Regions from separate parts of the Homo sapiens genome. Here region 2 is linked to region 1. Evidence: fine-mapped expression QTL. Tissue or cell type: NK cells. Region 1 holds a variant in brackets; the other region holds the start of a gene. All regions are shown on one strand. Distances are between the middles of the regions.

Evidence for each region. PIP is the estimated chance that this variant, and not a neighbour inherited with it, causes the effect.
Region 2: it holds the start of SLC2A9, and the variant in region 1 is fine-mapped to the expression of SLC2A9 in NK cells (Schmiedel 2018, PIP 0.95).

What each region holds. Positions count from the first base shown.
Region 1 is chr4:10,079,258-10,084,626 of GRCh38, reverse strand. It overlaps WDR1 (WD repeat domain 1), which reads left to right. Exons shown (of 15, transcript NM_017491.5): 9 at 97-184; 10 at 1,449-1,605; 11 at 3,183-3,270. Among named protein-coding and RNA genes, the nearest start is that of MIR3138, 3.2 kb to the right of the region's middle. The variant CA/A (reference allele first, on the strand shown) is at 2,963.
Region 2 is chr4:10,019,231-10,024,599 of GRCh38, reverse strand. SLC2A9 (solute carrier family 2 member 9) reads left to right here and starts at 3,103. Exons shown (of 12, transcript NM_020041.3): 1 at 3,103-3,320. The coding sequence starts at 3,171. RefSeq lists an enhancer at 3,122-3,621.

The sequences.
Region 1 (5,369 bases):
CCCTCCATTACCCAGAAGCTTCGTTGGTGGAAAGCGGGTGGCAGAGGGCAGGGCAGTGTGTCATCAGCTTACCCGCCCAGTGTGTCTCCTTCACAGGGTCACAGTAAATCGATCCAGTGTCTGACGGTGCATAAAAACGGCGGCAAGTCCTACATTTACTCTGGGAGCCACGACGGACACATTAATATCCTTTGACTCAAAGAGCTGGCTCCGGAGCCGCTGGCTCTAGGGGGGAATTTCCTGTTCCCATGATGCCAGAGGCCAGGCCAGCCAGGTGGCTCCAGCTGCAGCCACAGCCACACGCTCTTCTGACCCGTGTGGCTTCTAGGGGTGGCCTGTCTGTACATGGGGACAGGCAACTGTCCCCTGGAGTTGTCCTTGGCAACTCCAGGGCTTATGCTGAGGAAAAGCCATGGGCGGCTCCGACCTGATCAGTCCCTTCTTGTCGTGCAACCCTGAGAGTGTGGCTTAACGGCCCTGAGCTTGGGCTGCCACTACCTCTGCCAATGGCACCTGGCGCCAGCCTTGGCCCTACTCCACATGGTGGGTTTCTTGATTCCTAGAATTCACAAGCACCTGGACACCCTTACGTTGGGTCCCCTTGTTTTAAAAATAGGAAAACCAGAGCCCAGAGAGCTGATGTGCCCGCCCCAGAGTCATGCAGCCTGTGGTCCACAGAGCCAGGGCTGGAGCTCCTGCGAGGTGCCTTGTGGCCCTTCGGTGATGTTCCCTGGAGGTGTTTGTGTCCCCCTTATAAGTCCTTGTCTGGGTTTCTTTAAATGAGTCCTGGTTTCTCCCTGATGATGGGGGCTTCTGTTGTGTTTTTCCTGCATGGCCTGGGGCTGGTGACACCCTGCTCACGGGTGTGTCTTGAACCTTGGAGCCACCATCTGCAGAGTGCCTGGGCAGGGATGCCCACACACGTTGCTGATGATGGCACCTGCTGTGCGTTGTTCTGCTGCCCTCCCTGAGCACCGTGCTGTGTTGGAGACTGCCTTTTGTGTGGACAGCTCTGGTCCGCATGTGCTGTACCTCCCAAAGGGACTGTCCGGGACCCAAGGAGGTCCCCCCAGGCTGGGAGAGGAGGGCAGACATGCCACCCTCTGCCCCCAAAACATAAAGAAATGTGGGGTTAGAGGGTTGCGCCTACCCGATAACTAGTAGCAGAGGAGACGCCGGAGCCTCCCCAGCTTGCTGGTCCCCAGTAGGCCTTCAGCACGGCTCCCTTTCTGCCTCATCCCAATCCCTGTGTGGTGCACCCACACTTCAGATACCCCTTCCTAAGAACGTGTCAACAGTGGACACTGCAGGCTTCCCAGGGGGAATGGTTATGTCCGTTTGCGGCGAGATTCTCATTCTTGATGTAAATGGAGAATCTTAGGACTGAAGCCACACCTGAGAACACCCAGCAGTCCTGGGAGCCGGGCTTTTCCTTAACCCCACCCTACATTACTGGGATTCAGAGACGGGGGAGAACGACTCCTTCGCTGGGAAAGGCCACACGAACCAGGTGTCCAGGATGACCGTGGATGAGTCGGGGCAGCTCATCAGCTGCAGCATGGACGACACCGTGCGGTACACCAGCCTCATGCTGCGGGACTACAGGTGAGAGCACTCGGGTCTGCGGGGGTTCCGGATGAGCCTCAGCTCCCCTCGGAGGGCTTGTGCCCTCCAGCAGTTACTGTTCTGGAGGACGCCTCACTTGCTCCTTTCATCTCTCCCACCCCGTCCCCAGCATTGTTCTCCTGTTGTTGGGCCCTGAGCCCAGCACTGTGTTACAGATCCAGGTGGTCTGGGTAATGCTCTTGCCCACAGACAACGACCAGGTGTGGACTCTGCCCTGGAAGCAGGGGCAGCAGATCACAGCCCTGTTCTCCAGGAACCTGCTGCGGTCTCTCCCTGTGTCCCTTTCCTCATCAGTAAAGGCGGGTACAGTGGAGCCTGCCTCAGGCTGTTGTGGATTAGGTGAGCCTGGCACAGGGCAGGTGCTGAGTACAAGACAGCATTCCCCTTCTGCTCAAGGGTGAGATGGGCACACAGTGATCTGGTTAAAAGACAATGTCTTGTTTGTTTTTGGTCTTGGGCCTTTGATTGGCAGTCAGTGGAGCTAGGAGAGTAGCAGTTTGCAAGTGATCTGAAGTCCTAAATGCAGTTGGAGGGACTTGAAAGAGAAATGTTCCAGGACCTGACGAGGCCACTGCACATCCAGTGTCCCCATGCCCAGGTCTGACCCCTCCTCTGGCCCTACATTTCTTGTGTAGACCCCTTTGTCACCCGGTAGTCCTGCCTAAGTCGTGTTGCCTGGGAGATGGGGACTCCTGGGGCCTGTTGATGGGAGCCTGGCACAGGGTGCAGCACGCAACTCCTAGCAGGTGTGCCGTCCTTGTAGGTAACACAGGCCCTGCCTGCCTGGCAGACTGGGCATCTGTAGGTAAATTGGGCCTCCCGATGAGTGGCAGAAGCGGCCCCAGAGCCCAGGCATCTGGGCCCTGGTCCTCTTTCTACTGCCCTGTGGTGACCCCACTCTTAACACGTCCCATAAAAGGGTCTTCCCTGGGCCAGATAACCCAAGGCAAGGCCCTTACAGAGCCAGCCTTGGCCTGGTGACCTTGCTGCAGAGCCTTTGGGGATGCCACACTTGGCCGAGTGACACAGAAATTTCCTTGATTATCTCAGTTTTCAAGAAGTTTGTGTGTATGAGTCTTTCTAGAACAAGTTTTGATAGCATTGGCCAAGGCTAAAAATAACATGATTTTCACCCATTAAAGGTAACGGATTCTTAAAAGTTACCCATCCATTTTGGGGAGCAGAGCTCAATTCTGTCTGTGCTCAGTAAACTCCAGTCTTTAGCCAACAGACAGGGGGACAAAAGCCACATCTGGGTGTAATGAGGGCTTACCACAGATAAATAGGAGCATAATCAACGCCTTTCACCGCCTCCCGCCCCTCCTTCCCCCCCCCC[CA/A]CCCCTCCCCGGGCCCCCATTATGACTTATAATCTCTTTGCACCAGAGTCATGGATCGTTTTTTCGCTACCATCCCATATTTTAGCAAGTCTCTCCAGTATAGGTGGCAATAGAATTGCCTTCTAAGGAGCAAAACTGTGGTTTAACAGTAAATATGTATGCATACCTACCCTGAGCTGCTGCATTGTCGAAGTAATGTGCTTCCTTTCTCTCTAACAGCGGACAAGGAGTTGTGAAACTGGACGTTCAGCCAAAGTGCGTAGCCGTCGGCCCCGGGGGATACGCCGTGGTCGTGTGCATTGGACAGGTAGGGACCTGGCTTAGTGTTTGGGTGGGAGCCTGCAGCTGTGTGGTGCCTGCTTGCTGAATTTGACTCATGTCCCGTTTGACAGTTGCTCTAGCCAGTGTTTTGGTTGAGTGCTCATTTGCACTGCACTAAGGGATCTCACATATTTAATCCTCACCACCATCACATCAGTTGTACAGATGAAGAAATGGAGGCACGGAATGGATAAATTGGTTGTCCAAGGCCGCAGCTGGTCGGAGGGCAGAGCTGGGATTTGTCTCTAAGCCTCAGACCACGCTGCCTGCCTGTCAGCCTGTAAAGTCTATGAGATACCCTGTGGGGTGGGCCTGCCTTTGCTCCTGTTCACATCCCAGCCCTGCTGCATTGTAGCTGTGTGACCTCCGGCATTTACCTCACCCTCTCTGAGCCTTAGTTTCCCATCCCCAGCACTCACAGATCCAGGTGATTATGAGGAAGTACATGTAAGTCTCCTTACACCATCTTGGTTCCTCTTACAGATGAGGAGGCTGAGGCCTAGAGCAGCTTGGTACTTTCCCACATGCAGAAGGGTGGCACCTGACTTCCCGGCCTGGCTTCTAACCCCAGACAGTGGGGCCACCTGCACACCTTTGGAATATCTGGACCAAAGCCACCTGAGACCCAAGCCTGACCCACTTTATACAGAATTCTGCCCTGCAGAAGATATTATCTGTTGGCGGGCCTAGGCTTGCTGGCATGTAGACCGGGGAAGTCAAGGGGCACCTGTTGGCACGAGTGGCGAGCCCTGCTAAAGAAAGCTGCTTTCAGCACCCTCTGGCCCTCCTTTGCCTTGTGAACTTAATTGCGTTAGGGACAGTGGATTTCTCTGTGTCCTAGATAATAAGAAATCCCTGCCAAGTAATTATTGCAAACAGCCTGGACAGCCAGTGGGGGTGGGGAGGTGCAAAGGGAATCCACACATGGAGCGCCTCGGGGCCTGGGGGAAACGCTACAAAGCGGAGTTCTAGAAGGCTGGCAGGTGGCCTATCTCTGCACAGCAGGGCTCTTCCCAGCCAAGGGGTCTGCACATGGGGCTTTGTGGGTGAGGGGATGAGGCCTAGGGCAGCGTGCCCTGTGTCTCCAGACCCAGGTTTCCTCATCTGTAAAGTTGTGGTCATCATAGGCCACCCTTTCCCCTGAGGCTGAGAGGATGTTCAGACTGGCCCAGCTGGCGCCTGCTGCCCAGGAGGTTAGAAAGGACCCCGGTAGGGTTGTGGTGTGCAGGGGACAGGCTCCAGGTCTCTGCACCTCCTCATGTGGCATTTCTCTGTGATCTGCTGTTACCTGATCCTCCCAGGGCATCTGGAACCCCTGCTCTGGGTCAGAATTTTCTGCAGAGCTCCCTGTCACCAGTCAAAGAGTTAGGAGGGTGCTAGGAGGGGCCTGGGATTTTAGATCAGGAAACAACCAGGTTCAAGTCTCATGTCGGACGAAGCTTCAGGCAAATGCTTAGGCCCTCATTCTTCACCTGTGAGTAGGTAAGGCCACCTCCAGAGCCGGGCAGATGACAGAGGTGCCTCTTCAGTAGTAGGTTTTAGTCAGGGTGCTGCTACCATTCATCGCGATCCACCCACAATCCACGCAGAAACAGAAGCCCAGACGGTAGGGGCAGAGGCTGCCTTCCCTCATGACAGCTGGTGGCTTGGGTAGGGGCACACTGGGATAAAGGCAAAACTCAGAGATGAAGGCCACTGTCTGGGAGCAGTTGAGTAAGTTAGAACCGGAAGAATTGACAAGGAAGGGAGATGGAAGGAAGGCCCCCGCTGCAGAGCCTCTGCTGCATGTACCAGAGGCAAAGGCCCAGTGCGGGTGCCGAGGCTTGGATTCTGGGCGAGTCCCGGCTCAGCCTGTGGGAACTGGAGCCTTGGGCGTGCAGCATAAGCACCGTACCCCATTTTCTTCTCTGAAACGGGGAACCCGATCCCTGCCTTGTGGGGCTGGAACACTCACAGCAGAGCGCTGGCACGTGCCTAGGGGCTGTCGCTGTTTTTGTTTACTGTTGTTAGTACCTTTCTTACCCTGAACGTTGATTCCCATCGAGGCCAAGTGACTTTCCAAGAGGTGGTGCTGTGGTGACTGCC
Region 2 (5,369 bases), 60 kb after region 1:
AAACAACAGAAATGTATTGTCTCACAGTCTTAGAAACCAGAAGTCCAAGCTCAGAGTGTCAGCAGGTTAGTTCCTTCTGAAGCCTCCCTTCTTGGCAGAAGTGGCTGCCTTCTCCCTGCGTCCTCACGTGGTCATCCCTCTGTGTGTGTCTGTGTCCTCATTTCCTCTTCCTATAAGGACACCAGGCATACTGGAATACAGCCCCATGCATATGACTTCATTTAACCTTAATTACCTCTTCAAAAACCCTATCTCCAAATACAGTCACATTGTCAGGTACTTGGGGTGAGGACTTCAACATGTGAATCTGAGGGGACACAATCAGCCCATTGAGACGCACACCATCCCTGCCCACAGTGAGCTCCCGTGCAGAGGGGAAGGCACACGTGAGCAGCAGCACACGTGCAGAGGGGAAGGCACACATGGAGCACAGAGGCAGCGAGAGGTTGGGGAGGCTGCTGGGAGGAGGTGGCGAGAGAGTTAAGTGCTGAAGGGTGAGCACAGTTCAGGGCAGTCAGAAGTGAGGGCCTGAGCAAGGTCAGGAGAACCTGAATGAGTAGGAGCTTCATAAAGACAGGCAAGTAATGACTGAATGAAGGAACCAGTGAGTGTCAGAGCAGGCAGAACGTGCCCCAGCCCAGAACATCTGGGGATGTTTGTCTTATGACTTCATCTGTGATAGGAGTCGCTTCCTTAGCAGTTGCCTGCAGTGCAGGGCCGATGGCCCTGTGGAATGGGGAACCAGCCCTCGCTTTGGAGGCAGGCTCCTCCATGCTCCCCCTGAACTTCAGTTGCCCCGAAATGTAGGTCTGATAGTTCCTCTGAGGACTAAACGATATCATGAAGGTGAACACACTTGGGAAAGCCCTGTGCACATGTAACATGAGCTGTGCACATGTAGTAGGAGCTGAAGGTGAGGCAAGTGCTGTGGCTACCAGGAACCCTGGTTAGCTACCATCTGGATCCGGGAGGGACCCATCTCCGCTCTTTTACTTTCTGTCCAGCTGTAGCTGCACATTCATGTCCACTGCCTAATTTCTGGTTCCTTTTGAGTTTTCAAACCCAACAGAGGACTACGAAGCAATTTTTAACGGGATGAGGGGACACCTGATCCAATTTGAGCTTTAGCAAAATCTGGTGAGGTCCCCACTGTTACAGATGAGGAAACAGGGAGGGTATAGAGAGGGGAGTCACAGCAATGGGATGAGGAGGGGTAAATGAGATGATGAAAATGCAGTCCCTATCAGGACAGCATAGGGGCAGAGGGGCCCTCCATGCACAGGGATGCAGCTGTCCCTGCCCCTCCTCTGCCCATCTCCTGTACTTCAGGCCCCAACCATGCTTCACTGACAATTTCACTTCCTCCCACACACTGCAGGCATCTGTGCCTGCAGGCCTTGGCTCCTTGTCCTCTCACCCCGTATCCTTCTCTGTCCGCTCAGAAGCCGCCTCTTCCAGCGGGGTCTCCAAGATCCAGCTGAGATTGATGTGGTGCCTCCTCCACACTGTCCTGGGGAATCCTCCGCCTTTTTAGGTCATGTTATAATTAAGGATTTGCACATCAGAATGCTGCTCTAGGCCCACCACTCAATGAGGAAACCAGGCTGCATAGCTGAAATCCAGTTCAAGAAACAGCCACTTCTCCCGGGGCATGCCTGACTGATTAACACACAGAAGGACGATTGCACTGAATGACTGGCGTGCTCAATACATCCCCAACCTAACTCCTGAGGGTGGTTTTCCTCTTTGGAAGTCTTGATTCCCCACTTGCTTTGAGCAGCCACATTCCCACCACCGTGCATGTCAGGGCCGGACGTTTCCACGTGCGTTTCACATTCCAGGTTCCTGGAATGTCTGCCGTACTCCACACCTTTTATTTTATTGTGTGCTTTTTACTAAACGTACTTTGCTAACTTTTCGATCTCTCTTTTGTGGACTGAGCCCTACCTTGCCTCCTGGACGTTCTGCATTCACCAAGCCTGTCCCTGGCTCTGGCCCAGACTCTGCACTGCTCTCTGCTTCTGGGAGCAAACTGTTCTAGCCAAAATTGAAGGTGCTTCTCTGGCGTCTGAGGCAACATGGCCATGTGATGAACTGATTCCCACAACCTCCTGGTGTGCATGAGGCCCTTGCCTTCTCAGTACTGTCCTTGAGCCAGCCTGGGGCTGGAATACAGGACATGTCCCCTCAGCCAGTGCTGAATGAGCAGGACAGAGTAACGACTAAGAGGCAAATTCTTTTTCTTCCAAACCCACAGCCCTCGCCTTTGTTCTAGGCTACAGGAGAGCCCACACTCATTTACAGCACGCCACTTGGGGCTGGCTGTTTTCTATTTGAGCTTCAGAATAAGTCTGCAGGACAGTCAGAGTGGGGTCAATATTCCATTTTGCAGTGGTAGAAGTTGCAGCTCAGAGAATAAAGTGACTTGCCTGAGGACACACAGTTAAAAAGTGGAGGAGTTGGCCAGACATGGTGGCTTACGCCTCTAATTCCAGCACTTTGGGAGGCTGAGGTGGGCAGATCACCTGAGGTAAGGAGGTCAAGACCAGCCTGGCCAACATGGTGAAACACAGTCTCTACTAAAAATACAAAAATCAGCCAGGCGTGGTGGCACACGCCTATAGTTCCAGCTACTTGGGAGGCTGAGGCAGGAGAATTGCTTGAACCCAGGTGCGGAGGTTGCAGTGAGCAGAGATTGCATCAGTGCACTCCAGCCCGGGCAACAGAGCAAGATTCGGTCAAAAAAAAAAAAAAAAAGTGGAAGAGTCAGGGGCAGAGCTGTATGCAGGCTTCTGAGTCAAAGTCAGCCACCTCTCCATTCTGTTCCAAGCATTAGGGAGGTATCCTAGGTTAATGGCAGTCACCCTGCTCCAGGCTTTGTTACCAGAGAAAAATAAAAAGATGCTAAGAAAAAAAAAAAAAATTCCACCCCCTGGGTGGCAATCCTGGAGAGGACAGATTTCCCTTTTTGGACTGTTTCATTGCTGTAATAACTTAGGAGCAGAGAAAAAAATGTTGCCCCGTTGCCTGTTCAGGCATGATCAAATTGCCACACTTCCTGTCAGGAACTCCCGCCCTCCTTCCAGTGGACTCTGCCTCCTCACTCACGGAAATGCCTTGGCAGAGTCTGGGGTCCCTGGACTGAGCCATCAGCTGGGTCACTGAGACCCATGGCAAGGAAACAAAATAGGAATTCCAAGGAACTGGGCCTAGTTCCCCTCACAGATGACACCAGCCACGCCGGGCCTCCAGGGCCAGGGAGGGCACTGCTGGAGTGTGACCACCTGAGGAGTGGGGTGCCAGGTGGAAGGAGAAGAAAGGTAACTACGGACAGCTTTTCTGCATGGCTGGCGGGCTGTGGGGAAGGCAGGCCTGGGTGGCAGCCGTGTGACAGTGCTCAGCCCCAGCCTGGCAGCGTGTAGCTGGGGGATCTGGGGCTTTGAGGCAGGGAGGCCTCAGTTTGAGTTGCACTTCTCCATCTGTGTGACTTTGGCATGCTCTCTCCAAGCCCCAGCTGACTGGGCCAACAGCGTCTCTGGTAGACTGGGTGTGTACATGGAATGAGGCTATGGTGGCAGGCTGCCCTGCCCCGCACTTGCATGGTGGTGTCCCTCTTCTCACCCTCCCCAGGGCATGGCACGGGCAGCAGCACCGTCGGTCAGTGGGCACCCTCTGCCCGTGCAGTGAGTGGGGAGCGGGTGGAGGGCACAGGCGGGCCACACAGGCAGGGGGCTCCGGGGAGCACAGCTGAGGCAGGAGAAGATGGCCCCCACCTGCCCTTCACCAGCCTCTGGCAGGGGCACTTCACACCAGGTGCTCCCAATCTGATGGGGTGCAGACCAGGGAGGAGTTTGTGTCCTCTAAGGTCATCGGGGCTGGGAGCAAAGAAGGCACAGAGCACAGAAACGATGCCCAGCACAGCCCAGGGGCTCAGAAGAAGTGGTATCTGTGCCGAGACTCAGAGGATAGGTTTAAAGAGAAAGAGTGATAGAGAACAGGCGTTTCATCTGAAATGTGATTCTGTTCCATCAGGGATCCCCATTCAGCTCAAGCTCCTCTCACTGCAGAAAAATATTCTGGTACTACATTTCAATTGGCAGCACCCATCCCCAAGGCTTATAAATGTTCCCTCTTGCCCCCGCATGTGATCAGCAGCCTCTACGGAGCACCTCCTCTGCAGCAGGCTCCTCAACAACATATGTGGCCAGTGCTGCTATTAAGATCCCATTTCACAGGTGGGCAAGCTGAGCCCCAGAAAAGTCAAGTCACTTGCTCAGACTCCTACAGCTGAGGGGACTGGCCCTGGAGGTAAAGCTGATATCACTTGGCTCAAAGCCCCAAAGCTCTATCTCGTGGCTGGTGGCACTAGAGGAGACAAACGAGACTGGCAGAGCAGGTAAGTGGCCATCAAGAGACCCGCATTCCCTTCCAGACGGGATTTGACTGATATGGGTCCCTGAACCATGGATCCATATGTCTTCTTCACTGTTGCACCCCCACAGCTTTGTCAGGGCCTGGCGCCTACAACACACACACACACACACACACACACACACACACTCACAAATATGTCAAATGATGGCAAAGAAGGTGCCTTCCGGAGCACCTGGCCCCTGTCCACTTGGCCTGTATTCCCTGACCAGCTGAGGACAGCCATCCCTCCTGCCCTGGCTCATGCCAGCTTGTCAGCCTTTGCCAGGGATCCAGGTGTTTCTGCCCTATGGCCCTGTACTGGTGGTGGCTGTCCTTAGATGGGGCTGCAGGGCAGGACAACACCAAGGCAGGCGCCCTGTTCTCTGTGCCAAACCTTGCATCTCTACGTCTGCAGGTCCTTGTCCTGAGGCTTGGACCAGCCCCTGTAGTTTGACGCCTCAGACTGGAACAGTATGTGCATGTAAGCGTGTGTGCACATCTGTCTGGCTGTCGGCAGTCTCAGGCCCTTGGACAACGGCACTCAGGTGACGGGTCAGCAGGGGACAGTGCAGTGGTGACTAGAGGGGCACTGCAGCCAGGCCACCTGGACTTCAGTCCCCATCCTAGACAGCACCAGCCACGCTCCCTGCCCCTCTTTCCTCACCTGTAATACAGGACATAACAGCACTGATCTAAGGACTCAGAGACAATGCGCAGAAAAGTGCTTAGAATCACGCCTGGCTGATAGCGCTTGGAGTCTGGCTTTGCTTTTTTCTGTCTGGGTCGGACACTCGCCAACTTCGCTGAAAGGATCGTGTGGAGCTGCCCAGAGCAGCTGCTGAAAACTGCGTTTCAGGAATCCTCACGCAACCCGGAAGGAACGCAAGGGCGTGGCCGCTAAACCTGAGGGCGCCCGGCCTGCGCACGCGGACCTGGACTGGAACCCTACTTGCAGG